Linked DNA regions of Homo sapiens. The protein of the gene in region 3 interacts with the protein of the main gene of each other region in a pairwise test. Each region holds a gene or a part of one and is shown on either strand. Other genes may lie near its edges. The genes, in order: KASH5, KLRC1, ITM2B and SLC2A9.

Region 1 (7,022 bases), on a different chromosome or scaffold from region 3:
CCTGAGGTCAGAAGGTCAAGACCACCCTGGCCAGCGTGGTGAAACCCCGTCTCTACTAAAAATACAAAAATTAGCCAGGTGTGATGGCGTGTGCCCGTAATCCCAGCTACTCTGGAGACTGAGGCAGGAGAATCGCTTGAACCTGGAAGGCGGAGGTTGCAGTGAGCCGAGATCACGCCATTGCACTCCAGCCTGGGCAACAAGAGTGAAACTCCTCTCAAAAAAAAAAAAAAAAAAGAAAGAAAAAGGAGCACAAACTTTCTAGTATGAGATGATACTGAGTTATTGTTAATTTTGTTAAGTATGATAGTGGTATTGTGGTTTTGCTAAAGGAAATAAGTCCTCAAGTAGGAGATAAATGCTGGAGTAACTACAGGTGAACTAATATGATGCCTGCAATTTGCTTTAAAGTAATCTACTTAAAACATCTGGAGGAGAGCCGGGTGCGGTGGCTCACACCTGTAGTCCCAGCACTTTGGGAGGTGGAGGCAGGTGGATCGCCTGAGGTCAGGAGTTCAAGACCAGCCTGGCCAACATAGTGAAACCCCGTCTCTACTAAAAATACAAAATTAGCTGAGCGTGGTGGCACATGCCTGTAATCCCAGCTACTTGGGAGGGTGAGGCAGGAGAATAACTTGAACCCGGGAGGCAGAGGTTGCAGTGAACCAAGATCATGCCATTGCATTCCAGCCTGGGCAACATGAGGGAAACTCCGTCTCAAAAAAAAAAAAAAAAAAAAAATTAGCTGGGTGTTGTGGCAGGTGGCTGTAATCCCAGCTACTAGGGAGGCTGAGGCAAGAGAATCACTTGAACCCAGAAGGCAAAGATTGCAGTGAACCAAGATCGCACCATTGCATGCCAGCCTGGGCAACAAAAGCAAAACTCTGGCTCAAAAAAAAAAAAAAAAAATCTGGAGGAGAAACATCTCAGTTTAAACAAAACCGAGAAAATGCATATAATTATTGAAGCTGGGTGATAGATAATGTGGATAACAGGCTGCTTATATTGTTCTTTTGATTTTAAAATTGGGGATAAGAAATGAGTCAACACATGCAAAATGCTCAGTAAGTGTTAGCGATTATTAACCTATCTAATCTTTACAGCAATCCCATAAAGTAGGTCCTAGTTAAGCTCCGTTTTTTTGTTGTTGTTTTTTCCTGAGACAGTCTCGCTCTGTCGCCCAGGCTGGAGTGCAGTGGGGCGATCTTGGCTCACTGCAACCTCCGTCTTCCCAGTTCAAGTATTTCTCCTGCCTCAGCCTCCTGAGTAGCTGGGATTACAGGCACGCACTACCATGCCCAGCTAATTTTTTTATTTTTAGTAGAGACGGGGTTTCACCATGTTGGCCAGGCTGGTCTTGAACTCCTGACCTTGTGATCCGCCCGCCTCAGCCTCCCAAAGTGCTGGGATTACAGGCGTGAGCCACTGCGCGTGGCCTAGCTCCATTTTTATAGATGGGGGAGCCACACTCAAAGAAATTAAAGCTGTGGTCCCACTGGAATGGTTGGAGGAATTAAATGGGTTAAAACATATGAAGTGCTTAGCATGAGGCCTGATGTATATCAATCAAGTGTTTAGCAAATATCTGCTGTTAATTTTGACATTACCACTTGCTGGAATGAACGTGACCAGCCATTCCTTCTTCTAGAACGGGAAGCTGCTTGCCGAGCGGGATGGAGTGAAAAAGAGAAGTCAGGAGCTGGCCATGGAGAAGGACACTTTGAAGGTGCCACTCCTTCCTAGTGCCTGACAACTTTCCACCACCCCGGGGCCATTTTTCCCATTTCCGGTTTTAGTGACTGCAGCCTGATAAGGGCAGGGTCTTCCATCAAGCTGTCAGGCTCCCAGGACCACCCAGGCATCCCTAAAATCCCTGAAGTCCTGGAACATCTCAGGAGGCTGAATACGTGGGGGTGCGAGAGAACAGGTGGGGCCAGGTGGAGGGCAGGACCAAGGGGAGTCCTGGGAGGCTGGATGGATGGACCGGCTCCTTTCTTGGCAGCGGCAGCTCTTTGAGTGTGAACACCTCATTTGCCAAAGAGACACCATCCTCTCTGAGGTAAGGGGCCCCGGGAGGGAAAGAGATTCGCTTTCCATGTGCACCAGCCACTTCCTGCCCCTGGTCTAGAAAGGGAAGTCCTACTTGGGTCTGATCCTTGGATGTGCAGCTGGAGAGACTGGAGGGTTTCCCCAGGTCCCAAGTGTGACCCCTCAGGGATCTAGAAGCCCTTCTGCCCGGTGCTCTCCCTTGTGCCCCAGCTCTTCCCTCAAGCTCACCCTGTCCCTTAACCCCCCAGCCAGTCCCCCCGCCACCACCACCCCCAGTGTCTTTGGGGAACTGGTCCCAGTCTCATTTGGCTTTCGGCTTTCCTAGCGCACTCGCGATGTGGAGAGCCTGGCCCAGACCCTGGAAGAATACAGAGTGACGACGCAGGTAACTCAGCGGCCCTCGCCACCCACCGCGGCCCTCGCCACTTCTCTTTTGCCATCTCTGGGACTTGCTGCCTCTCCTCCTCGTGCCTCTTTGTCAGTGGCCACATCTTGCTTCTTCCATCCTTGATGTATGACTGTATGACTGCATGTCTCCCCCTCTGTTTCTGTATCTGCCTTTTCACTTTTTCTCTGTTCCTTCCATTCACTTTCATTCTCTGTGGGTGTCTTCTCACACACCTCCTCTCCTTATCTTATTTTTTTTTTGAGACGGAGTCTTGCTCTGTCGCTAGGCTGGAGTGCAGTGGCACAATCTCGGCTCACTGCAACCTCTGCCTCCCAGGTTCAAGCGATTGTCCTGCCTCAGCTTCCCAAATAGCTGGGACTACAGGTGCATGCCAGCATGCCCAGCTAATTTTTGTGTTTTTAGTAGAGACGGGGTTTCACCATGTTGGCCAGGATGGTCTTGATCTCTTGACCTCGTAATCCACCCCTCTTGGCCTCCCAAAGTGCTGGGATTACAGACGTGAGCCACCACACCCAGCCTCCCCTCCTTATCTTTATGTGTCTCTGCGAGGCTCGTGTGGGTTCCTGTCTCTGCCTCTAGGTCTAGGCTGTCTGTCTCCCTAGGCAAGTCTTCTCTGTTTGGCTCTGGTCTTTACCAGTCTCTTAGCCCTCATGTTTCTCTTGCCTGTCTGTGAGTCTGTTTCCATCTATGTCTCATTTTTTCATGCATCTCTGCCTCTGCCTTCCTTCTTTTAATTGTCTTGGCTGTGCTTTTTTTTTTTCTTTCTTTTTTGAGATGGAGTCTGGCTGTGTCACCCAGGCTGGAGTGCAGTGGTGCAATCTCGGCTCACTGCAACCTCCACCTCCTGGGTTCAAGCGATTCTCCTGCCTCAGCCTCCCAAGTAGCTGGGACTACAAGCGTGTGCCACCATGCCCGGCTAATTTTTTGTATTTTTAGTAGAGACATGGTTTCACCCTGTCAGCCAGGATGGTCTCGATCTCCTGACCTTGTGATCTGCCCGCCTGGGCCTCCTGAAGTGCTGGGATTACAGGCATGAGCCACTGCGCCTGGCCTCTTGGCCTGTGCTTTAGCTTCTGGATTCCTGTTGCTCTCTCTCTTTGGCTTCCTAACATTCTGTCATGGCTTTCTTCCCCTTGTCCCTAGGCAGTATGTGTCTGGGGAGCCCAAAGTAGTCAGGAAAGGGGAAAGAACCCTGGAAGAGGAGCCCAGAGGTGGATGGGAGGGTGGGAAAAATGCAGAGCCAAATGTGCTCCCCACTTCCTCCTTTGCAGGAACTGAGGCTGGAGATTTCACGCCTGGAGGAGCAGCTGAGTCAGACCTATGAGGGGCCCGATGAGTGAGTGGAATTTCAAGGGGTAGGAGGAGGCAGGAGGGGAGCCTAAGGGCAGGGACACCCTGGCCTCCAGCCCCAAGGTGGGCAGGGAAGGGAGGCCAGCATGAGCTGACTGAGTGGCCACCAGGCACAGAGGCCATCTTCCTCCCTCCTTCCTGTGTGGCCAGGCTACCTGAAGGGGCCCAGCTGAGAAGAGTGGGCTGGACCGAGCTGCTACCCCCATCGCTGGGCTTGGAGATCGAGGCCATTCGACAGGTGGGCCTAACACCCCTGGAATAAGCTGCAGGCCACCAAGGCAGAATCTCCAAACATCTCCCTACTCTGATCCTCACACCAGCCTAGCCCTAACCCACATTGCTGCCAGAGGCTCCTATCGCAACCTTAGCTTTTCTCTAACTCTCTCTACCTCGGATCCTAACCCCAAACCCACTGCCAGACCCAGGCCTGTGCCAGACCCCAGTCTGATCCAGCTTTGACTCACCCCTATCTCGTCTCCCTCCATGACCATCTCACTCCTTAACTTCATCTCGAACCTAGACCTTGGTCCTGGCACCAAATCCTCCCCTGTTCCTGCTTCTGCCCACTCCCCAACCCCAGCCCCACACCAGCCCTTTTCTATCTCTCATCCTATTTTCAGCCGCACACCTAAACCTATTTCTATCTCTGACCTTGTTTTCTACCTTAATATGGCTCTCCCTGACCTCGGAAACAACTTCTGTCCCAGAAACAGGAAGTGGCAACTGCTGATCTCTCCAACCCTCTGTGTGGGGTGTGGCAGTGGGAGGAAGTCATCCATGAGACCAGTGAGGAAACTGAGTTTCCATCTGAAGCCCCAGCTGGGGGACAGGTGAGCACAGGAAAAGCTCTGAAGTCCAGGAGCTGGAAAGGGGCCAGGAGCTCCAGGTGCCGCCCTGGCCAGCCCATTCACTCACACTTTTGCTTGTTCCCCATTTGATGAGAAAATGTTAATTGAGGGCCCAGTGTGTGCTGGACACCCAGCCACAAGCCAGACCAGACACCACCCCTACCCCAGGGACTGACCTGCCAGCGTTGTAGACAAAGGTGAACCAAGCAAACACACAAGTTGCACTGTGGCTTTTATTGTTGGTTTGTTTTTTAGAAAACACTCTTGGGAATTACATTATTTAAAATCGTACTACTGTAGGAAGGGAATAAGTAAGTTGTTTATTCCAGCATTTTAAGGATATATTAAGCATTTATGTTTCAAATGTTAGCACCTTTAAGAAAAGCCAGCAAGCTCACTATGACATCTTTAACTCAGCAATAACCATTGGGGTTTTTTTTGTTTTTTGTTTTTAGAGACAGGATCTTGTCTTATTCTGTTGCCAAGGCTGGAGTGAACTTGACTCACTGCAGCCTCAATCTCCTGGATAAGCAATCCTCCCACCTCAGCCTCCCAAGTAGCTGGGATTACAGGAACACACCACCATGACTGGCTTTTTTTTTTTTTTTGAGATGGAGTCTCACTCTGTCACCCAGGCTGGAGTGCAGTGGCACGATCTCAGCTCACTGCAACCTCCACCTCCCAGGTTCAAGCAGTTCTCCCTGCCTCAGCCTCCCAAGCAGCTGGGATTACAGGAACCTGCTGCCACACCTGGCTAATTTTTGTATTTTTTTTAGTAGAGACGGGGTTTCGCCATGTTGGCCAGGCTGGTCTTGAACTCCTGATCTTAGGTGATCTGCCCGCCTCGGCCTCCGAAAGTGCTGGGATTACAGGCATGAGCCACCATGCCCAGCCTTTTTAAAATTTTTTTATAGAGTTGAGATCTCACTGTGTTGTCCAGACTGGTCTCAAACTCCTGGGCTCAAACTGTCCTCCTACCTCAGCCTCCCAAAGTGCTGGGATTACAAGCATGAGCCACTGCACCTGGCTTTTTTTTTTTTAATTAATTAATTTATTTTGAGACGGTCTCACTCGCTTCTCTGTTGCCCCGGCTGGGGTGCAGTGGCATTATCACAGCTCACTGCAGCCTCAATCTCCCTGGACTCAGGTGATCCTCCCATCTCAGCCTCCCAAGTAGCTGCAACCACAGGCATGTGCCACCATGTGTAGCTAAATTTTCTATTTTTTGTAGAAATGAGGTCTCCCTGTGTTGCCCAGTCTGGCTGAACTCCTGGGGTCAAGTGATCCGCCTACCTCAGTCTCCTAGAGTGCTGGGATTACAGGCATGAGCCACTGCTCTGGGCTCTCTCTCTATTTTTTTTTTTTCTTTTAAAGAAAATGTTGTAAACAGCTCTATAAACAAGCTGTATTGTCTTGAGAACTGCACCACTTCAAAGCTCTTTGCCATCCTTAAGGAGAGACTCATTTCTCTGATCACTTTTTCCCTGGTTTGAGAAAAGCTTTTGTTTCTCTTTGACACCAGAGCTTGTTTGGGTTCTCATTTAACTCTCCCAGTATCTCTGTAAGGCAGGCATCCTCATCTTGTTACTCATGGGAAACTGAGGCTCAGGGAGAAATCACATGCCAATGGTCACACAGCTTGTTGGGGACAGAGCCTCATCCCTCAGAAGTGTAGGTTAGATTGGGCTTCTGCTTTGAGCTGTCAGATGCCCCTGAGAGACAGGCTTGTCAAGGGGAAGACTGAGCCAGGCCTCAGAGTGCAACCTGCGATGGGCCCAGGGATACAGAGCTGAGTCCCTTGGGGCCGGGCCTCTCAGTGCTCAAGGCCTGATAGGAGAGACCCTGCAAATGGGTTGCCCCAGTGCAGAATGATCATTGTGCTAGAGGTGGGGGATGGGCCTGTGGGAGCCCAGAGAAGGGGTATCTGTGTCAGGTCAGAGATTGGGGAAGATATTGAAGGAAAACTGATACTTGAGTGGAAGGAAGGAAGGAAGGAAGGATGGAAGGAGGGAGGGAGGGAAGGAGGGAAGGAAGGAAGGAAGGAAGGAAGGAAGGAAGGAAGGAAGGAAGGAAGGAAGGAAAGAAGGAAGCCAGCCTTTGAGGCACTAGCACAGCCTGTGCAAGGCCTTGGCATAAAATCACGATATGCTTGAGGAGTAGAGGGTAACTAGGGGTGACTAGTGAGAGATGAGGCCAGGGCCAGATCATGAAAGGAAATCTCTGACAAGCTAACAGATTGTACTTTTCTTCATAAAGCCACAAGAAGGGTGGGGTCAGCTCCGGGCTTAAAAAGATCCCTCTGGAACCATGTGAGGGACCTACTGGAGGCAGGGAGGAGGCTGGAGCAATGGTGATGAAGCCTGAGC
Region 2 (7,837 bases), on a different chromosome or scaffold from region 3:
ATGACCACAGAAAACTAGGACGTGAACACACCAGAGTGAGGTTAAGACAGGAAGTTTAATGGGCAAAAGAAAGAGAAGAGATCTCTGCCCAGGGATGGGTACTGGAGAAATGGGTTGCTGCTTCTGCAGTGAAATGTAGAAGGTTTTATAGATGAGCTTGAGGGGGCAGTGTCTGATTTACATAGGGCACGAAAGATTGGTCGGACTAGGCATGCCATTTGCATAGCGCTTAAAGAAGCTGGCCACTCAACCCTAGTCTTTTATTATGCAGATGGTTGTCTACCTGGCCTGTGCCATGTTGCCTGGTTCTTTATTAGTGACAAAGAAAAGGGAAGATGGAGCCTCCAGGTTGAAAATGCCTGGCTTCCAGTCAGCCCCTTTTCTATTGGCACAGCTGCCAGCATGCACACATGCAAGTCTCCAGCCTGCTTATCTATGTCTGCTGCTTCATTTTTCAGGCTGCTCTTTGTTAGAAAAGAAGTTATTTGGGGCTGCTTTTTGTTAAAAGGGAAGCCTTGCTGAGAATTCCTTTACCCTCACTATCTGCCTAAATAATTTCTTTCTCGTTCCTGTATCACTAGTGTAACTGTCTAGCCATGTGCAGAAGAGTTAAAATGGACCCTTACCTTTCACCATATAGAAGAATTAACTCAAGATAATTAAAATTTTAAATGTGATACCTCAATCTGTAAAAATTTTAGAAGAACACCTAGGAAATACCTTTCTCAACATCAGCCTTGGCAAACAATTTTTTGGCTATGTCCTTAAAAGCAAGGGCAATAAAAACAAAAATTGACAAATGAGACCTAAACTAAAAAGCTTCTGCACAGCAAAATAAACTATTAATGAAATATACAGACAACCTACAGAGTGGGAAAAATTATTTGCAAACTATGCATCTGACAAAGGTCTAATATCCAGAATCTATAAGGAATTTAAACAGAACAACAAGGAAAAACAATAACCTCATTTAAAAATGGGCACAGGACATAAACAGACACTCCTTAAAAGAAGACATACAAGTATCCAGCAAGCATATTAAAAAACACTTATCATCACTAATCAACAGAGAAATGCAAATCAAAACCACAGTAAGATACCATCTTACACTAGTCAGAATGACCACTATTTAAAAGTCCAAAAACAACAGATGCTGATGAGGCTGCAGAAAAAAGAAAATGCTAATACACTATTGGTGGGAATGTAAACTAGCCTAACCGCTGTGGAAAGTAGTTTGGAGATTTCTCATAATACTTCAAACAGAGCTACCATTTGACCCTCAATTGCACTACTGGGAATATAACCAAATGAAAATAGATCATTATATCAAAAAGACGCATGCACTCACATTTTTATCACAGCACTATTCACAACAGCAAAGATATGGAATCAACTTATGTGCTCATCAGTGGTGGACTGGATAAAGAAAATGTGGCATATATACACCATGGACTAGTACTCAGCCATAAAAAAGATAAAACCATGTCCTCTACAGCAACATGGACAGAGCTGGAGGCCATAATCCTAAGCAAATTAATGCAGGAACAGAAAACCAACTACTGAAGGTTCTCACTTATAAGTGGGAGCTAAACACTGAGCACCCTTAGACGTAAATATGGGAACAAAAGACACTGCAGACTACTAGAGGGGAGAGGAGAGCAGGGAAGAATGGTTCAGAAAACTACCTACTTTGGATTATACTCACTATTCTGGTATAATATACCCATGTAACAAACCAGCACATGTACTCCCTGTATCTAAAAATAAAAGTTGAAAGAAAAAAAATTGGAAAAATTCTCAAGGACAGTTGACTGGCCAAAGATTTTTTGAGTAATACCCCACAATCACAGGAAACCAAAGCAAAAATGGACAAACGAGATCACATTAAGCTAAAAAATAAACAAAACCCCCCCACGAGATTCTCTTATCTTAGACTTTTGACAATTTGATTATATTATGCCTCATAATAGTCTTTTCTGGGCTGATCTTGCTCATGATTCATTGAGCTTCATGAATCTGGATTTCCATATCCTTCCCAAGTGAGGAAGGTTTTCAGACAGTATGTCTTTAAAGAAAAAATATTTTTGACTTTTTATGTCTCTCTTCTCCTTCTGAAGTTTCTATACTTTCTATACCATATTCTTGGTGGTGTCTCAAAGGTCTCATGCTTTCTTTGCCACTTTTTATTCTTTTTTTACTCTAATTTGTTAATTTTAAAAGACTCTTTTTTTGAGTTCACTAATTCCTCTGCATGATTGAGTCGGGCATTAAAACTCTCTATTGACTTATTTATTTCTTTCATTGTGTTCTTCAGCTCCAGAATTTTTGTTTGGTTCTTTTTAATAGTTTATATTTCTTTATTAAATTTTTATTTTGTTCATGTATTTTTTGTTTTAGTTGTATTTTTTGTTTACTCTTTTCTTTTGCATCTCACTGAGATTTTTTAAGATGATTGTTTTGAATTACTTTAAAGGAAACTTATAGATCTCCATTTATTTGGATCAGTTGCTAAAGCTTTATTAGTTTCCTTTGGTGGTGTCATATTTGTCTGATGCTTTGTTATTTGTTTATCCTTGTACTGATGTCTGTGCATTTGAAAGAGCAGACTCTCTTTCAGTCTTTACAGACTGGTTTCGGTAGGTTAAAAGCTTCTCCTGTTAGTGTCCTGGGCTGATGAGATTGCCTTCAGTATCATGGTTGAATGGGGTTACAGCCAGATCACATGGTTGCTTACGGGTCCAGAGTGGGATCTTTGGTTCATGATCCTTTTACTAGGGCTTCTAGCAGGCTTGTATCCTATTTAGTGCCTCAGAGGGCCAAACTGGCTCTAGAATCATACTGTATAGGGCTGGGGAGGGGATGAGGGTCCACTTCAAGGTCTGTAAATGGTGGGTCTATTATTAGGTGTGTAGTTGGGGAAGAGTTTATCTAGTTTGCTGGGAAGGCTGCTCATGGGTCTCTGAGTGGGTTCCTCAACCTGTGGCACAGAGGAGTTAGTGCTAAGTCACAAGGTTTCCTCGGGGTCTATAGCTGAAACCAGTGTCTTCATGTCTGTCTCTGGGGTCATGGTTGAGTGTGTTTTCTGGCAGGTCTGTGGGCAGGCAGATTTGCCTCAGACTGTAGTTGAGTTGGGCTGGAGCTGGATCCAGAATTGTTTCAAGATCTGAAATAAAACTAAGGTCTGTGCCTGCAGGGGCACTAATGATGTCTCTCTCCAGGTCCCTGTATGGGCAAACTGCTCTCTAGCATAGCTGAGAAGTGTCGAAGCCCCTTTTCTGTCCAATTAAAGGATCTGCTGTGAAACCTAGGTCAATGGTCTCCTAGTTGGGACATGGATGCACATGTCCTCCCTCTGTATCCCTGAGCTGGCAAGACTGCTCACAGTCCACAGCTGAGAAGGGTGAAGGTCAAGATTCAAGGCTGTTTCAGAAACTACCGTGGAACTGAAGTCAGCAAGCCTGTACTGCTGACAAAGATGATTGAGTCTCACAGCAATTTCCTGTGATTAACTCAGGTCACAGTTGAGAGGAGTTTGAGTGGAGATTCAGGGCCATTTTAGTATCTTCTGTAGGACAGAGGTCAGCAAGCATGCCCCAGAGGTACAGATGTATATGTCTCCCAGGAAGTCTCTGTGGGTGAAGGACTGATCTCAAGTTGTGGCTGACACTAGTTAAAGCCAAGTTAGAGGGCTGTTTCAGGGTCTACATTGAGACTACAGTTGATATGCCTACCTCCTGAGACACTAGTGTGTGAGTCTCCTCCTGGGCCCCTGGGCAAATGGTTTTGGCAGCATGACCAAGGCCTAAATGGGGCTGAAGGCAAGCACAGGAGGATGGGTCCCTTTTCAGGTCTGGAGATGGAATCACTGTTGGTAAGTCTGCCACTTGGATGCAAATCTATTCCCTAAAACAACCTTCCTAGGTCTTGGGTTCCACTGGCATTTTACAAACTCCTACTTGAATTCCAAACTCCCTCAAAGGAACTTTTGTCTGTGGATGGCTGAAAAATTATTGTTGCTGTGGGGGCATATGTGTGGGGGACCACCTATTCTGCCAATTTACTGACTTTCCTCCTAGTAAGATTTTAAAATTACTTTTTCCCCATACATAGTTTGACTTCAGTTTTTGTCATTTACAACTAAATATTTCTATGAAAGTCGACATAATTTGTTATGGCGGAGGATGAATAAATGAAGAATGTAATGAATAGCTATTTAATATTTCAATTTCTGGTATGCTAATATATTTCAAAATTGATTAATATTTTACCTATCCAAGATATTTTTATCAAGGGTAATCTGAAGATTAAATAATCTATTTTTAAAAATTAAGTGCAAAAATTTAAGAACTAAGAGAAGTTAATAATATAACTTTGGCAATGATGCTTTTTGTGCCAGCTACAATCAATTGAGTAATTACTGCAGTAATTTTTCAGAATAATTAAGGAAAAAATCAGTAGATATCAGTTGATAATATTACTATGAGTTTTAGAATGTTTTCTATTATAATGGAAGTGACATAATAAAATAATATAAAGAAAAGAAGTATGCAATGTTAAGATTTAGCAACCTAGTCTAAAAGGCACTCTTAACAAGGTGAGGGTTGACAATGTTCGTGATCAAGACAGAAAAAAAAAAAATTCTCATAGGCACTTGAAAAATGAACCAACTAAATGACACACTTTCAAAGTCAACCTTGTACTTTTAATAGACCAAGTATCCTATATTTTGGAGGTGTGTGATGAGATAAAACTGATTTCACAATAGCCCATGTGTAGAATTTCCTGTTCAAACCTTAGTAACACGTTGATGAGAAATCTACTTTTTCCACTCTTGACTCACTCTGAGCCTTCACAGGGCAGTCTGCGAAGATTGCAGGCATTGTTTGTTCTTGTCTTGGATTTATGCCTTTAAATTTCACCTTTTATTACACAGCTATAGCAGGCCTTTTTATGAGACTAACCTGGCCTCTCCACTAAAGGATGTGTGACTTTCTGGGGACAGAAGGTATGTATTGCTACTCTCCAACTCTCTACTAGCCTACCTCATTTAGTGGGTGATTTCAAGTGCTCAATATGATACAAAGGAGGTATAATTAATATACAATAAAATCAAAGTAGAATATTGCTGTCTTCATTTGAATAACTCAGGGTAAAAACCTAAAATATGAAATATGTTGAAGGATTTCTTAAAGTTTTCAAATTATTGTTTGTGGAAATCTAGTGGGTTTGTTGATCAATATCGTTTAAGGGAAAGCTATTAACATCACAATAATGAACAATTAATTTTGTATTTTGTAATCAGTACATCATGTATCTTTGAATAATAATTTATATTTAGCTTAGCCATTAAAGATTATTAAAATAAATCAATCAATTGATGAAAGCCAAATACAATTCCTCAGACACGTAGATTAGAGAAAAGCAGTTTTTATTTTTAATAAAAATCAGAATGAGGTAGATTACATAAAATGCTAAAGGTATTACAAAGCAATAAAAATACTTTTTAAAAATTGATCAAAATATTGCAAAAAAAGATGTAGCGCATGGACATAGGAGACTTATCTGAAGATTTATTTTCCATGCTTTAACTGACATGAATCAGAAACAGTAACATAACAATTGTGACTAAAATAATAATTAAAGTAGCTAATGCTTATTGAGAACTTTAAGTGCCAGGTTGAGTGGTAAATGTTTTACATGCAACGTTTTATATGTTCTTATGCCCATTTTAGATTAACAAACTGGGTTATTAAAAATAGAATAACTTTTTAAAGGTCGCACATTATAAGTGTCAAAGCTAGAATTAATTCTAGATCTCACTGACTCCAGAGCCCATTGACTAAATGATTTAATTACATTATCTGAAATTTTACAAGTACTTATACAACTAAAGTGGCCTTTACTCACTTTGACAACCATAAAATCATTCTATAAGTTTAAATGAAATGTGCTTTAACATGAATTACCTATACTTTTATTTATCATTTTTTGGTTCATAATTTAGCCAGGAAATAAATTACCAATTACTAATTAAATTACCAATACTTCTGTAAGTATTAACAATTTATGTAGTGTTCCTAATACTATTTAGGTTATGCATAAGTTAACTGTGTCACATAGCATTTTCTGTCATATACAAATATTTAATTTTTTATAATTTTTAATAAATAATTTTTAATAATTTCTTAGAACATTTCAGCCATTAAGAAAAGACCATTTAATTACCTCTATTGATTTTCATTAATGTGTATAAATTACTAATTAAAAGTAATGTAGTGCAAGAAATTTTTATATATATATATGTCAACTTTACTATTACTCATGTGCAGACCACATAGTCTTAACCATTACTGGATTTCAAAATTAACATAAAAATGAGTGCAGAAGTTTTTCTAATACAACATTTTAATTTTTAACACAGGTAAAACATCAGACTTTAAGAAATATATTTTTATTCCTGAACTTCTTTATTCCTTAGTAATTTATTGCTTCTCATTGCCCCAGCAATAATATTTTGTCAAATGCAGAAAATTTATCTTTTTTTTTTGAGTCGGAGTCTCACTCTGTCGCCCAGGCTGGAGTGCAGTGGCACAATCTCCGCTCACTGCAACCTCTGCCGCCCATGTTCAAGAGATTCTCCTGCCTCAGCCTCCCGAGTAGCTAGGACTACAGGCGCCTGACATCATGCCCGACTACTTTTTGTATTTTTAGTAGAGACGGAGTTTCACCGTGTTAGCCAGGATGGTCTCGATCTCCTGACCTCGTGATCGGCATGCCTCGGCCTCCCAAAGTGCTGGGATTACAGGCGTGAGCCACCGCGCCCGGCCTAAAAATCTTTTTTTAAAACAAATATTCATAAGAAACGTGTTTAGGCTTGAAGAAAATCAGAGAAAGAACTTTAGATTATTTAATGCAAAATGAGCTCCAATACTCGTTCTCCACCTCACCCTTTTAATTGCACTAGGGAATCCTGTATATAAACCATTTATTAACTTCTTAACTACTGTTATTATAGAGTACAGTCCCTGACATCACACACTGCAGAGATGGATAACCAAGGAGTAATCTACTCAGACCTGAATCTGCCCCCAAACCCAAAGAGGCAGCAACGAAAACCTAAAGGCAATAAAAACTCCATTTTAGCAACTGAACAGGAAATAACCTATGCGGAATTAAACCTTCAAAAAGCTTCTCAGGATTTTCAAGGGAATGACAAAACCTATCACTGCAAAGGTAAAGCATTTAAAAGATCCTCAATATAACAGTCTAGGATGTGCAGCTTGGGGTACAGGAATGTGGGGAAAGAGAAGGGAGTGCTCATATATCTTCTATTTGCAAAGATCAGAATTCCAAGTTGAGATATGCTATTTCAATGTAAAGTATGAAGACTGATTGAACTCATTGTTGAAGTTTGTAGTCTTTGTCAAATAATTCATGGAGCATTATTTTTCCTGAAAATTCAATGGTATATTATTCTGAGAAAAAGATTACAATGGGAGATGAGGGTTTGGGGTCCAAGTTTCTCTGTATGATTCCTGTGCATTCAGGTTCTCTTGTCTGTGAATCTTCTAAACGACTGTATCCACCTCTCCTTTCGCACTGTTCCCATTTCTCTCCCTGCAGATTTACCATCAGCTCCAGAGAAGCTCATTGTTGGGATCCTGGGAATTATCTGTCTTATCTTAATGGCCTCTGTGGTAACGATAGTTGTTATTCCCTGTAAGTCTATTTTCGAAGATTACAAGGGGAATTTTCACGTTAATGATTGAATGTGCCTCTAAACATTTCATATTTTCAGGGAATAGAGTTCTCATTGTAATGTATATATTTGGACTAA
Region 3 (6,674 bases):
GTTGACAGTGCCTTTTTTGAAACCTATCACTGCTATATGTTAGCAAGCAAACACTGATCTTGTTTTGTAATGTGTAATTGTTCACTTCTGCTTTCCCTGTATCCCTTTTTAGATTCCACACCCATATTAGTGAGAAGCAAGAAAAAAAAATGTACACAGTGTCCTAAATGTTGTTTATCTCGAATAATAGAAGTAGGAGTGTAAAACTTAAAGGCTGATTAATAATGCAAATGAAAAGGCAAATGGATTATTGAATAGAAAAGGTCTAGATTCTATGTTTGAATGTGGTTATGAATTAATATGGGCAGAATCTCTAAGATTCTGCTAAGTGAACATTTAGTAGTTTACTAGACATCTTCTCTTCCACCTAGCAAAGAGTTTGTTGCCCAGAGTTATATAAATCCTACTCTATTGCACACTAATCTTTGCATGTTTAACTCTTTGGGACTTAGGTTCCTAGATAAGGACTTCATGTGTATCTATTTAGAAAAAGAACATTTCTTCATTTCCACAAAGCTACACAGCCATCAGTTCGTTCAATATCTTGTCCAAAGTTATTGCTAGCGTTCTTCTTTCTGAGTCTTTGTGGCTAATGCTTTTTTGAGGAAGAAGCATGATTTAGTCTCAGCTCTCTATTGATCATTTTAGGCTTTTATCTTACTGAAAAAATTAAGCACAATTTAAGATTTTTTTTGAAATATTTACTGAATTTTGAGGCCATAAATTATTTCCTGATAGCACACATGTATGGGTTGTAGATTCCACACTTTTAATCTTCCAGCCACCTATTGCAGATTGGTTCTGAGAAGCAGGATGAGTGGGAGTGGGCTTAGGGGTCAAAATTGAGACCTAAGTGGTATAAAACAAGATAATCCTAGCTTCCTCCCACTTAAAATAATTTGATGGGACTTCTGTATCTGATTTTTAAGCTTGCATTTGTGTTTATATTTTCATTGTAAAAATATCAAATAATACAGTTTTTGAAGGTAAAAAGTAAATGTTCCCGCCCTTCTACCATCCTCCTTCCTCAGTCCCATTCCCCAACAGTTTAACGTGCGATACAATAATGTGTGACACAAAATGACCTAGTTCTTGCCCTAGTGACTAAGCAGATGCAAACGCCTTCTTCTTTCCAAACAGTGTGGTCTTATCCCCGTCGCAAATGGAGGATATTTAAGAAACCCAAGCCAGAAACCCCACAGTCTTCACAGTCACTGTGTCCTCCACCTCCTAGCAGCTTCCTGCTGTTCTGCTCTAGTGGTTCTCTCTGCTTCCCCACACCCACCCGTAAGCCACAACAATCTTTCCAAAACACGAACTTGATGGTTTCATTGTCACACCCCAGCTTAAAACACTTTCCTGGCTTCCCCTGGTTCTTAGGATAAAGACCAAAATACTTAATGCTGCACAGTCCAGTCCCAACCCACTCTCCAGCTTCATCTTAATCACACCCCTCTTTGCTCCTAGTGTCCTACCACATTGCCTGACTTACTGTTTCTTGGTAAATGCTATTCTTACTTCCTGAAGATTATTTCCATCTCCTCACCCGACACCCTTCAGTTAGCTTCCACTCAACCTTCAGAATTTAGTTCAGGTGACCCTTCCTCAAGAGAAGATTTTCCTGAACCATTAGGAAAGGCTTCTCTTGTTTCTCAGTCTCATAGCATCATCTGTCTCTTTTTTGTGACTTGAATATAATTAATATTTTATATTTTGTCCTTGTTGCTTGTTTGGTTAATAGATTTCCACCACTAGACTGCTCAATACGTTAGTAGGGCACCTGACACATAGTTGCAGCTCTTATTTATTGAATGAATGAATGATTCCTTCCCGTACCACCCTAGTCTTGCCCACTGTCATTTTTATTCTGGGTATTATATTTCCCAACCAGTTGTCTGACTTTCTCCTCAGATCTCATCCCCATGGGTCTGAGTGAGTTGCCTTGAATATAAGATTCAGTGATGGTGTCCTGCTGCACTTAAGAGAAAATCCTTTTTTCAAGCCCTAAAATCCTGCCCTCACTAGACTTCTCTCACCATTTCTCTGTTTGCATCCTAGCCTTTTAGTTTTGGCCTCATATAAGCTTGCAGCCCTGCCTGAAACAGTTGTCTCTGTCCCCACTCTACCCCCTGCCCTCCACAAAGAAAAGTTAACTCTTACTCATCTTTCAGATCTCAGACTAAAAGTTTCCTCAGAGATGCCACCATAGCTCTCTATTTCTCATACCTTTCATGATACTTCATCACCTGTCTTCATGAAGTCCTCCTCTAGACTATTAGCAAAATGCTCATACTGTGTCCTCAGTATTTGGCACATAATAGGTTTTCTTGACACTGAAGGAAGGAATAAACATCTGGTAACTATAGCTAGAAAAAAAGGAAATACGGTATCTACTTCACTAAAACCAAAGGGGGTTTTTTTGGGCAGACAATCTTCATTATTCAGATGGAAATTAATGTTTGTTGAATGAATGAGCTACATTTCATGGATTAACTCCATGAAATGGAGTTCAGCTAGTAAGGGTTATACTTTGAGGCTATTTCATCTTGATGGGCTTGTTGTTCAAAGTTAGAGCCTCATTTTAAGTAAAATGTTCTGTGGGGGCCATATTAAGATTTTCATATGACAGAAGTGTATATATATCCACAAATGTTTCAAGCCAAGATTATGTCTTCTTCCATAATGCCACCTTCTTCTAGGATAGTATTTTTGGGCCAGATGGTTTTCCACATTTAAAACATACCAACATTCTTTTAAGGCCCAGTGATTATCAAAAGGGATTGGCACTACATTTTAAAATGTAGGGGGGATTTTTGATTGTCACAGGACTAGAGGATGCCATTTGTATTTAGTAGATGAGGCCAGGCAGGATGCTAAATGTCTTAAAAGTCCGGGAGTCCTGCACAAAAAATTACTGCCCTTCTTGATTTGCCAATTATGCCCCTGCTGGGAAGCATGAAAGGAGAGAGAAGAGCTTTCAGAATGTCAGGGATAAATATATCCATTAAGCCTTCAGACTAAGATGCAGGAATAGTTTTCCATTTGGGTATGAATACGGCAAGTTCTTAGAACATTTCTTAAAACATAATTAGCCAAATACTAGTGTAACAGCTACAACTTATCTAGTTTTAATCAACTCCAGGGAACATTACACTTTATTTAACCCCTAATTATCTGATAACCCAAGTTCTGTCAGAAACACTGCTGAGGCATCCAGGAAGATGAGCCTGTGAAATTTGAGAATCCTTCATGTCTCTGGAATGAGTCCCTAGATTCTAGCCCTGCAGCTAGCTGACACTCTAAAAAATTATGAGTGCCTTCCTTTAGCTCCCCATAGAAATGTCTTTGTATAACCATGGCATGATATTATTCTCTTGACTTTTGTTGAGGATTGATAGAAATAAAAATGAGCCAGAAATGTTTCTTCAGCTTTTGTAAAGTGCTGTTAAAAGCATTATGTCATATCTAGTACTTCTTATCTAAGTATTTTAAAATTTAGTGTTAGGAAAATTTTTTTCACATAGGATACATGTTAATATTAGGTAGTACATCTAAAGAATTCATTTGCTTCCCTTTTGCCTTGGTTGCTGGGAAACTCAGAGCCAAACTCGGTGCTTAGATTAATTACTTTCAGCCTAGGTTTTTCTGTATATCACCCTTTCGGTAGGGCTTGAAGTAACCCTTCAGTTTGCTCATATTTTGTTGTGAGTTTTATAGATAGTTTACATGCAACGAAATGCATATATCTTAAGTGTTCAACTCAGTGAGTTTTGACACTTTTCTTTGTCCATGTTAACAATCATCAAAACATTTTCATTGCCCCAGAAAATACCATTGTGCTCCTTTCCGGCAAATATTCCTTCCCTCTGCTAAAACTACTTTTTCATTTCTATGACCATAGTTCAGTTTTTGGCTATTCTTGAACTTTATTTGAATGGAATCGTACATATATAATCTTTTTGTTTGGCTTTTAAAACTCAGTATAACGTTTTGACATTTGTCCATGTTGTTGCATGACTCAGCAGTTCTTTCTTTTCAGTTGCTGTGTAGTAGTCCATTTCTTTTGGTTTTGTGTGTGTGTGTGTGCTTTTTAAATTTATTTTTTATTTTTTTTTTTTTGAGACAGAGTCTGGCTCTGTCAACTCAGGCTGGAGTGCAGTGGCATCATCTCGGCTCACTGCAATTTCTGTCTCCCAGGCTCAAGCCATCCTCTAACCTCAGCCTCCCGAGTAGCTAAGACTCTACAGGCGTATGCCACCATACCTAGTTTGTTTTTGTTATTTTTTTTAGTACAGATGGGGTTTTGCCATGTTGTCCAGGCTGGTCTCGAACTCCTGGGCTCAAAGCAATCCACCCTCCTCGGCCTCCCAAAGTGCTAGGATTACAAGTGTGAGGCACTGTGCCCTGCCAGTATTCCATTTTTTGTGTATACCACAATTTATCATTTTTTTCTGTGTAGGTATTTTCATTGTTTCCAAGTTGGGAAGTATGAATAAAGTTGCTATGAACATGCATGTACAAGTCTTTGTAGATAGCTCATGTTTTAAAAAGTGTTTGTTTAATGATTTCATTGCAAAATCATCTTTATTGTAAACATATCTTTTTGAGGGTAGATTGGTAAAATATACATAATAAATACATGACAATGCAGGAGTCCAAGTATTATTAGGTTTACAGTCATAACAAACACCAAGAACCATTTATAAATTTCAGTTTCTCATTGTTTTAGAATGGAAGGTCTAACCAAATATGTAATGTATCCCTTCAAGTAAACTAGTATAACTTGGGTACCTTCTCATATAAATTCCCCTTAAGGCATACGTTGCTGTCTTTTCCAAATTCCCATTTTGCTTGTCCAATAGGCATTATCAGATACAACATGTTCAAAGGCAAACTTGATTTTCCTCCCATGGTTTCCTCATCTCAGCTCCTTTTTTTTTCCAGTTGCACAGGCTAAAAATAGGAAGTCATTCTAGATTCCTCTCTTTTTCATAAACCTCACATCAAATCCATCAGCCAATCTGGTGTGCTCTACCTTCAAGATACGGATTATCCAGAATTCAGCCGCTTCTCACTGTCTCTACTGCTAACATAGTAGTCAAAGCTGCTATCATCTCTTGCTTGGATTGGTGCAATGGCCTCACAACTGATCTTCCTGCTTCCATACTTGACCCCTAGAGCCTCTTCTAAACAGAGTAGCTAGAGCGATCTTTTCTAAATCTAAGCCACATCATGTCACTCCCCTGCTCAAATCCCAACATTTTATTCAGAATAAAAGTCGAACAATGCCCTACCTGTAGGTAATCTAGGCCTCCAAAGCTCTTCTTACATCACCTCCTGTAACTCTCCCCCTTTCTCACTCCTCTACAGCCACACAGCTGCCTCACTTTCCTTTGAACGTACCAAGGGCAATCCTGCTTCAGAGCCTTTGCACTTGCTGTTTCTGGGCCAGGAATTCCACACCCTCCTTCCCTCACATGTATCCCAAGGCTCACTGCCTTCCTTCAGTTAAGTCTGCTGGAATGTCACTTCATTAGGTATTGCCTGATCACCTTTTCTAAAGTGAGTCTCACCTCCACCCTCAATGCTGGCAATGTCTGTCTGTAGTGTATTCTTAACAATACAGATTAGCACAATGCAGGCCAGACCATGAAGACTGTTTCAAGTTCGAGGATGGGCAAAAATAATGACTAGGACTTGGCTCAAGATTCCTCAAACAGCCAATAAACAATGCAAAGAATAAATGAGAGAGTAATTGGAGACAAGCTTTCCCTTGGCTTCCCTTCTTTTCTCACAGAGGCTTTTCCAGAAGGTGGTCATTTCCATAGCCCATGTGGAATGAGATGTCCACTAGGGCAGAGAAGCACAGAACCGTGGGCACTGCTTCCCTTCCTTTAACCCTATCATATTGCTGCCCAGTGAGCAATATGGTCATTGGTCAAGAAGGCTTATGCCCAGGTATCCCTGTGGCTATGAGCATTGCTCCTTATCTATGCCTCTGCTCTTAGACTTTTCCATTCTGCCCTCTTAGGGGCCTTCCTGGCCATGACCACACTACCTTATTTTTCTCTATAGTACTTATCACCATCTGACATGTATTTATGTTTGTATTTGTTTATTGTCTGTCTCTACAAATAAAATGTAAATTCCCTAAAAACAGAGACTTTATTATTTTTGTTCATGTTACATCCTCAGCACCTAGTAAAGCACCTGGCACGTATTAGGAACTCACTAAATATTTACTGAATGAACTTTGTTCAATAAATTTAACATGGTTCTATGTAGCCTCCTTTTTAAAAATTGGCTCTGTTATATAGACTTCAGGGGCAACTGATAACAAACAAAACCAAACTTGGCTTTTTTCCCTTTTTTTTTTCTTTAATTGTAGTTTCAGAATTTCATCTGGGAGTGGGAATGGCCACAGGAATGCAAGTTCTGTACACCTCAGATTTGGTGCTAGTGATGTTGCCATGTTAAGAAAGTGAGCTGGGCCTTGTGCCTTCAGTAGACAGAATCAAAATCTATTACTTTATTTTAATACCCGAAGTTCAAATTACCTCTTAGGTAGGGATCCCTTAAATGTGATAGTGCTGAATCACAATGGAGGAAAAAAATGGCAAAGAGTATATTGAAATTCAGACTGATTCACAGGTAAAAGGCCTCTTGGAGACAAC
Region 4 (7,827 bases), on a different chromosome or scaffold from region 3:
GTGAGCCGAGATCGCACCACTGCACTCCAGCCTGGTGACAGAGTGAGACTCCATCTCAAAGATGATAGATAGATAGATAGATAGATAGATAGATAGATAGATAGATAACAACAACAACAAAACAAATCAAGAAAATGTCCAAGTTTCCATGCATAAGGCCCCTCCTGGTTCTTTCCCCGGCATTAGGGGCCAGAGGATCGCCCCCCACCCCACCCCGGGACTTCCGAAGCCCCCTCTCATCTAGTCTCCCAACGTTCTCCCAGGACACCCGCCCTCCAGCCGCAAGAACTGTCATCCCCCGCCCCTGTCCCCGTGTCATCATTGTCTGTCTCTGTGCCTCCCCTCTCCCCCGAGTGGGGGCTAATCTCTGTCCCCGCGGTGTCCCGCGCCGCGAGCGCAACAGGAGGGGGCGCTGGAGCCCAGGGCCCTTGCGCACCCGAAGGTTTCCGCAGGGCCGCAGCGCCCTCTGCCGGGCCTTGGCGCGCACTCACCGGGGTGGGGGCATTCACCACCGACAGGTTGTAGCCGTAGAGGAAGGAGGAGCCGAAGGCGCCCGCGAGGGAGGCCACGAGGAGCGAGCAGGACCAGTCCTGAGGGGAGAGGAAACCACGTCAGAGCCGGCACCGGGCGCGCAGCCAGGGCCGAGGGAAGACCTGGAACGTTCCCTCAGCTGGGGGAGGCCTTCCGGAGGAGAAGTCTTTGTCCTTGGCTGGGGTAGAGACAGAGAGAAGAGACGCAAGTTGGGGACCTGCAAGTAGGGTTCCAGTCCAGGTCCGCGTGCGCAGGCCGGGCGCCCTCAGGTTTAGCGGCCACGCCCTTGCGTTCCTTCCGGGTTGCGTGAGGATTCCTGAAACGCAGTTTTCAGCAGCTGCTCTGGGCAGCTCCACACGATCCTTTCAGCGAAGTTGGCGAGTGTCCGACCCAGACAGAAAAAAGCAAAGCCAGACTCCAAGCGCTATCAGCCAGGCGTGATTCTAAGCACTTTTCTGCGCATTGTCTCTGAGTCCTTAGATCAGTGCTGTTATGTCCTGTATTACAGGTGAGGAAAGAGGGGCAGGGAGCGTGGCTGGTGCTGTCTAGGATGGGGACTGAAGTCCAGGTGGCCTGGCTGCAGTGCCCCTCTAGTCACCACTGCACTGTCCCCTGCTGACCCGTCACCTGAGTGCCGTTGTCCAAGGGCCTGAGACTGCCGACAGCCAGACAGATGTGCACACACGCTTACATGCACATACTGTTCCAGTCTGAGGCGTCAAACTACAGGGGCTGGTCCAAGCCTCAGGACAAGGACCTGCAGACGTAGAGATGCAAGGTTTGGCACAGAGAACAGGGCGCCTGCCTTGGTGTTGTCCTGCCCTGCAGCCCCATCTAAGGACAGCCACCACCAGTACAGGGCCATAGGGCAGAAACACCTGGATCCCTGGCAAAGGCTGACAAGCTGGCATGAGCCAGGGCAGGAGGGATGGCTGTCCTCAGCTGGTCAGGGAATACAGGCCAAGTGGACAGGGGCCAGGTGCTCCGGAAGGCACCTTCTTTGCCATCATTTGACATATTTGTGAGTGTGTGTGTGTGTGTGTGTGTGTGTGTGTGTGTTGTAGGCGCCAGGCCCTGACAAAGCTGTGGGGGTGCAACAGTGAAGAAGACATATGGATCCATGGTTCAGGGACCCATATCAGTCAAATCCCGTCTGGAAGGGAATGCGGGTCTCTTGATGGCCACTTACCTGCTCTGCCAGTCTCGTTTGTCTCCTCTAGTGCCACCAGCCACGAGATAGAGCTTTGGGGCTTTGAGCCAAGTGATATCAGCTTTACCTCCAGGGCCAGTCCCCTCAGCTGTAGGAGTCTGAGCAAGTGACTTGACTTTTCTGGGGCTCAGCTTGCCCACCTGTGAAATGGGATCTTAATAGCAGCACTGGCCACATATGTTGTTGAGGAGCCTGCTGCAGAGGAGGTGCTCCGTAGAGGCTGCTGATCACATGCGGGGGCAAGAGGGAACATTTATAAGCCTTGGGGATGGGTGCTGCCAATTGAAATGTAGTACCAGAATATTTTTCTGCAGTGAGAGGAGCTTGAGCTGAATGGGGATCCCTGATGGAACAGAATCACATTTCAGATGAAACGCCTGTTCTCTATCACTCTTTCTCTTTAAACCTATCCTCTGAGTCTCGGCACAGATACCACTTCTTCTGAGCCCCTGGGCTGTGCTGGGCATCGTTTCTGTGCTCTGTGCCTTCTTTGCTCCCAGCCCCGATGACCTTAGAGGACACAAACTCCTCCCTGGTCTGCACCCCATCAGATTGGGAGCACCTGGTGTGAAGTGCCCCTGCCAGAGGCTGGTGAAGGGCAGGTGGGGGCCATCTTCTCCTGCCTCAGCTGTGCTCCCCGGAGCCCCCTGCCTGTGTGGCCCGCCTGTGCCCTCCACCCGCTCCCCACTCACTGCACGGGCAGAGGGTGCCCACTGACCGACGGTGCTGCTGCCCGTGCCATGCCCTGGGGAGGGTGAGAAGAGGGACACCACCATGCAAGTGCGGGGCAGGGCAGCCTGCCACCATAGCCTCATTCCATGTACACACCCAGTCTACCAGAGACGCTGTTGGCCCAGTCAGCTGGGGCTTGGAGAGAGCATGCCAAAGTCACACAGATGGAGAAGTGCAACTCAAACTGAGGCCTCCCTGCCTCAAAGCCCCAGATCCCCCAGCTACACGCTGCCAGGCTGGGGCTGAGCACTGTCACACGGCTGCCACCCAGGCCTGCCTTCCCCACAGCCCGCCAGCCATGCAGAAAAGCTGTCCGTAGTTACCTTTCTTCTCCTTCCACCTGGCACCCCACTCCTCAGGTGGTCACACTCCAGCAGTGCCCTCCCTGGCCCTGGAGGCCCGGCGTGGCTGGTGTCATCTGTGAGGGGAACTAGGCCCAGTTCCTTGGAATTCCTATTTTGTTTCCTTGCCATGGGTCTCAGTGACCCAGCTGATGGCTCAGTCCAGGGACCCCAGACTCTGCCAAGGCATTTCCGTGAGTGAGGAGGCAGAGTCCACTGGAAGGAGGGCGGGAGTTCCTGACAGGAAGTGTGGCAATTTGATCATGCCTGAACAGGCAACGGGGCAACATTTTTTTCTCTGCTCCTAAGTTATTACAGCAATGAAACAGTCCAAAAAGGGAAATCTGTCCTCTCCAGGATTGCCACCCAGGGGGTGGAATTTTTTTTTTTTTTCTTAGCATCTTTTTATTTTTCTCTGGTAACAAAGCCTGGAGCAGGGTGACTGCCATTAACCTAGGATACCTCCCTAATGCTTGGAACAGAATGGAGAGGTGGCTGACTTTGACTCAGAAGCCTGCATACAGCTCTGCCCCTGACTCTTCCACTTTTTTTTTTTTTTTTTGACCGAATCTTGCTCTGTTGCCCGGGCTGGAGTGCACTGATGCAATCTCTGCTCACTGCAACCTCCGCACCTGGGTTCAAGCAATTCTCCTGCCTCAGCCTCCCAAGTAGCTGGAACTATAGGCGTGTGCCACCACGCCTGGCTGATTTTTGTATTTTTAGTAGAGACTGTGTTTCACCATGTTGGCCAGGCTGGTCTTGACCTCCTTACCTCAGGTGATCTGCCCACCTCAGCCTCCCAAAGTGCTGGAATTAGAGGCGTAAGCCACCATGTCTGGCCAACTCCTCCACTTTTTAACTGTGTGTCCTCAGGCAAGTCACTTTATTCTCTGAGCTGCAACTTCTACCACTGCAAAATGGAATATTGACCCCACTCTGACTGTCCTGCAGACTTATTCTGAAGCTCAAATAGAAAACAGCCAGCCCCAAGTGGCGTGCTGTAAATGAGTGTGGGCTCTCCTGTAGCCTAGAACAAAGGCGAGGGCTGTGGGTTTGGAAGAAAAAGAATTTGCCTCTTAGTCGTTACTCTGTCCTGCTCATTCAGCACTGGCTGAGGGGACATGTCCTGTATTCCAGCCCCAGGCTGGCTCAAGGACAGTACTGAGAAGGCAAGGGCCTCATGCACACCAGGAGGTTGTGGGAATCAGTTCATCACATGGCCATGTTGCCTCAGACGCCAGAGAAGCACCTTCAATTTTGGCTAGAACAGTTTGCTCCCAGAAGCAGAGAGCAGTGCAGAGTCTGGGCCAGAGCCAGGGACAGGCTTGGTGAATGCAGAACGTCCAGGAGGCAAGGTAGGGCTCAGTCCACAAAAGAGAGATCGAAAAGTTAGCAAAGTACGTTTAGTAAAAAGCACACAATAAAATAAAAGGTGTGGAGTACGGCAGACATTCCAGGAACCTGGAATGTGAAACGCACGTGGAAACGTCCGGCCCTGACATGCACGGTGGTGGGAATGTGGCTGCTCAAAGCAAGTGGGGAATCAAGACTTCCAAAGAGGAAAACCACCCTCAGGAGTTAGGTTGGGGATGTATTGAGCACGCCAGTCATTCAGTGCAATCGTCCTTCTGTGTGTTAATCAGTCAGGCATGCCCCGGGAGAAGTGGCTGTTTCTTGAACTGGATTTCAGCTATGCAGCCTGGTTTCCTCATTGAGTGGTGGGCCTAGAGCAGCATTCTGATGTGCAAATCCTTAATTATAACATGACCTAAAAAGGCGGAGGATTCCCCAGGACAGTGTGGAGGAGGCACCACATCAATCTCAGCTGGATCTTGGAGACCCCGCTGGAAGAGGCGGCTTCTGAGCGGACAGAGAAGGATACGGGGTGAGAGGACAAGGAGCCAAGGCCTGCAGGCACAGATGCCTGCAGTGTGTGGGAGGAAGTGAAATTGTCAGTGAAGCATGGTTGGGGCCTGAAGTACAGGAGATGGGCAGAGGAGGGGCAGGGACAGCTGCATCCCTGTGCATGGAGGGCCCCTCTGCCCCTATGCTGTCCTGATAGGGACTGCATTTTCATCATCTCATTTACCCCTCCTCATCCCATTGCTGTGACTCCCCTCTCTATACCCTCCCTGTTTCCTCATCTGTAACAGTGGGGACCTCACCAGATTTTGCTAAAGCTCAAATTGGATCAGGTGTCCCCTCATCCCGTTAAAAATTGCTTCGTAGTCCTCTGTTGGGTTTGAAAACTCAAAAGGAACCAGAAATTAGGCAGTGGACATGAATGTGCAGCTACAGCTGGACAGAAAGTAAAAGAGCGGAGATGGGTCCCTCCCGGATCCAGATGGTAGCTAACCAGGGTTCCTGGTAGCCACAGCACTTGCCTCACCTTCAGCTCCTACTACATGTGCACAGCTCATGTTACATGTGCACAGGGCTTTCCCAAGTGTGTTCACCTTCATGATATCGTTTAGTCCTCAGAGGAACTATCAGACCTACATTTCGGGGCAACTGAAGTTCAGGGGGAGCATGGAGGAGCCTGCCTCCAAAGCGAGGGCTGGTTCCCCATTCCACAGGGCCATCGGCCCTGCACTGCAGGCAACTGCTAAGGAAGCGACTCCTATCACAGATGAAGTCATAAGACAAACATCCCCAGATGTTCTGGGCTGGGGCACGTTCTGCCTGCTCTGACACTCACTGGTTCCTTCATTCAGTCATTACTTGCCTGTCTTTATGAAGCTCCTACTCATTCAGGTTCTCCTGACCTTGCTCAGGCCCTCACTTCTGACTGCCCTGAACTGTGCTCACCCTTCAGCACTTAACTCTCTCGCCACCTCCTCCCAGCAGCCTCCCCAACCTCTCGCTGCCTCTGTGCTCCATGTGTGCCTTCCCCTCTGCACGTGTGCTGCTGCTCACGTGTGCCTTCCCCTCTGCACGGGAGCTCACTGTGGGCAGGGATGGTGTGCGTCTCAATGGGCTGATTGTGTCCCCTCAGATTCACATGTTGAAGTCCTCACCCCAAGTACCTGACAATGTGACTGTATTTGGAGATAGGGTTTTTGAAGAGGTAATTAAGGTTAAATGAAGTCATATGCATGGGGCTGTATTCCAGTATGCCTGGTGTCCTTATAGGAAGAGGAAATGAGGACACAGACACACACAGAGGGATGACCACGTGAGGACGCAGGGAGAAGGCAGCCACTTCTGCCAAGAAGGGAGGCTTCAGAAGGAACTAACCTGCTGACACTCTGAGCTTGGACTTCTGGTTTCTAAGACTGTGAGACAATACATTTCTGTTGTTTAAGCTGCCCAGTCTATGGGACTTTGTCTTGGCAGCCCCAGCAAACCCACAGTGTCCTAAGCCTCTTTGTATTCCTAGACTTCCTTCAGCCTGGCTCAGGGACAGGGTCCAGTAGATAGGCATCACTTCTGGAACTGACCTTAAACTGTCCTCCGGATGATTTCCTAAGGCTAAAAAGTTGTCTTGGACAAGGTGGAAGTTTTCTAGCAGGGAAGAGTTGGAAAAGAAGGGGGGTTTTCTATTGAGTATCATTTAAGCAGAATGTTTGAAATGACTACATCCCTTCCTTCATTACACCAAATACTTAGACAGTAGATCCTTGACTCACCTAATGTAAGCACCAAGAAAAGATATAGCGTCCACTTAGAGGGAACTGCTGTCTATTTGACATTATTCTTGCGTGGGGTCTTGGGTAACCTCAAACAGGTGACTGCACCCTTATCCTCCATTTCACACCTCTGTGGGGACAATGATGTTCAGCTTGCCAATTTCACACCTTCTTGACAACTTGGTAAATGGACTTGTGTTGATCTCTGTCCTACCAAATACAGGTTTATTATAAATACAAATAAATTTTCCCTGGAGTCACAGTAGCTTCCACACCCATCACAGGAGGTGAGGCACAGATAATCCAAGGTTTAAGAAGGGCTCAAACCTGTACTAGCCACATAGCCTTGGACAAGTGGCTTCATCCCTTTCTGAGCCTCAGTTCATCGCCTGTAAAATAGGGCCAGTGATGCCTTCAGCATGGTTTGATCCAGAGAGAACCATGTAAAGAGTCTCTCTTTAAATGAGAGCCCTATGTAAAGGTCCAGCACAGAGTAGGCACTCTCTGGCTGTTGGTTCTTGAATCAGGTTTAAAAAGAGCATCTGATGAGTCCCAAGAAGAAAGAAAGTCATTCTATTAATAGGAGCTGAGGACTTCCTGGAGGAAGGGGCAGGTCGACTAAGCTTTGTGATGGATTAAGGGGTGGGTTTTAGTGTATCTTTAACGATGATGACATAATCATTGTCAACATCAATGTCCCCTTGTTGAGAAATGACCTTTGTAATGGAGACTTTTGCCCCAAGCCCAGAAAGTCACCAGCAGATCAGGACTGTCAATTTCACTCTTCTGAGCCTCATCCCAGACACTCTACAATCCCCATGGCTCCTTCCCATAGAACTTGGCTTTCAGCTGCTGCTCACTCTTTTCTCTGCCCAGCTTCACCTTAACAGCCTCCCACTGACCCAGGGGAAAGGGGTACTACCCCCTGGGTGACCGGAATAATCATGTAAGGGAGACAGAAAAAAAAAAGGACTGACCAATTTCTTTTTCGCTGAATCACTTTCTTCATCTTCTCCTCGGTCCTTTTTACTGAGCTTCATGGTTCACTTTTCAGGTTTTGAACTTTTGTTGTTATTGTTTCTGAGAAAGAGAAAAAGAAAGAAGCCATTAGACAGCTGCTTTCTCAGATGTGCAAGTCAGGGGAGGTGGCCTGGAGCAGTCTTCGAAAGGTTTGCTGTGAGGAGCTCTGGCTGGGATGCCAGGATAGGACACAGCAGCATCCTCGCTTGGGCATCTCCCTGCTCTCCTCTGTCCTCAGTTTCTCTATTTTTGAGTGCAGGGCTTCCCACACTTGCCTTGTTGATTATTAAATACAGGCAATGATCCCATTCCTCTTCTGCATCATCAATTTATCTCTCTGTGTTGGATCTCCCCGGGCTATGTA

What was found.
Region 1: the proteins of ITM2B (region 3) and KASH5 interact in binary tests that used the Homo sapiens proteins (3 or more experiments, as listed by UniProt).
Region 2: the proteins of ITM2B (region 3) and KLRC1 interact in binary tests that used the Homo sapiens proteins (3 or more experiments, as listed by UniProt).
Region 4: the proteins of ITM2B (region 3) and SLC2A9 interact in binary tests that used the Homo sapiens proteins (3 or more experiments, as listed by UniProt).

Annotation. Positions count from the first base shown.
Region 1 is NC_000019.10:49,405,238-49,412,259, forward strand, and holds part of KASH5 (protein KASH5), read left to right. Parts: intron 1-1,648; coding exon 1,649-1,726; intron 1,727-2,002; coding exon 2,003-2,059; intron 2,060-2,374; coding exon 2,375-2,434; intron 2,435-3,729; coding exon 3,730-3,794; intron 3,795-3,958; coding exon 3,959-4,046; intron 4,047-4,515; coding exon 4,516-4,638; intron 4,639-7,022. UniProt on the Homo sapiens protein: As a component of the LINC (LInker of Nucleoskeleton and Cytoskeleton) complex, involved in the connection between the nuclear lamina and the cytoskeleton.
Region 2 is NC_000012.12:10,450,366-10,458,202, reverse strand, and holds the start of KLRC1 (NKG2-A/NKG2-B type II integral membrane protein), read left to right. Parts: upstream 1-4,825; 5' UTR 4,826-5,005; intron 5,006-7,015; 5' UTR 7,016-7,046; coding exon 7,047-7,233; intron 7,234-7,623; coding exon 7,624-7,719; intron 7,720-7,837. UniProt on the Homo sapiens protein: Immune inhibitory receptor involved in self-nonself discrimination.
Region 3 is NC_000013.11:48,264,201-48,270,874, forward strand, and holds the end of ITM2B (integral membrane protein 2B), read left to right. Parts: 3' UTR 1-6,157; downstream 6,158-6,674. UniProt on the Homo sapiens protein: Plays a regulatory role in the processing of the amyloid-beta A4 precursor protein (APP) and acts as an inhibitor of the amyloid-beta peptide aggregation and fibrils deposition. Plays a role in the induction of neurite outgrowth.
Region 4 is NC_000004.12:10,018,484-10,026,310, forward strand, and holds the start of SLC2A9 (solute carrier family 2, facilitated glucose transporter member 9), read right to left. Parts: upstream 3,015-7,827; 5' UTR 2,947-3,014; coding exon 2,797-2,946; intron 2,783-2,796; exon of another isoform or gene 749-2,782; intron 591-748; coding exon 492-590; intron 1-491. UniProt on the Homo sapiens protein: High-capacity urate transporter, which may play a role in the urate reabsorption by proximal tubules. May have a residual high-affinity, low-capacity glucose and fructose transporter activity. Transports urate at rates 45- to 60-fold faster than glucose.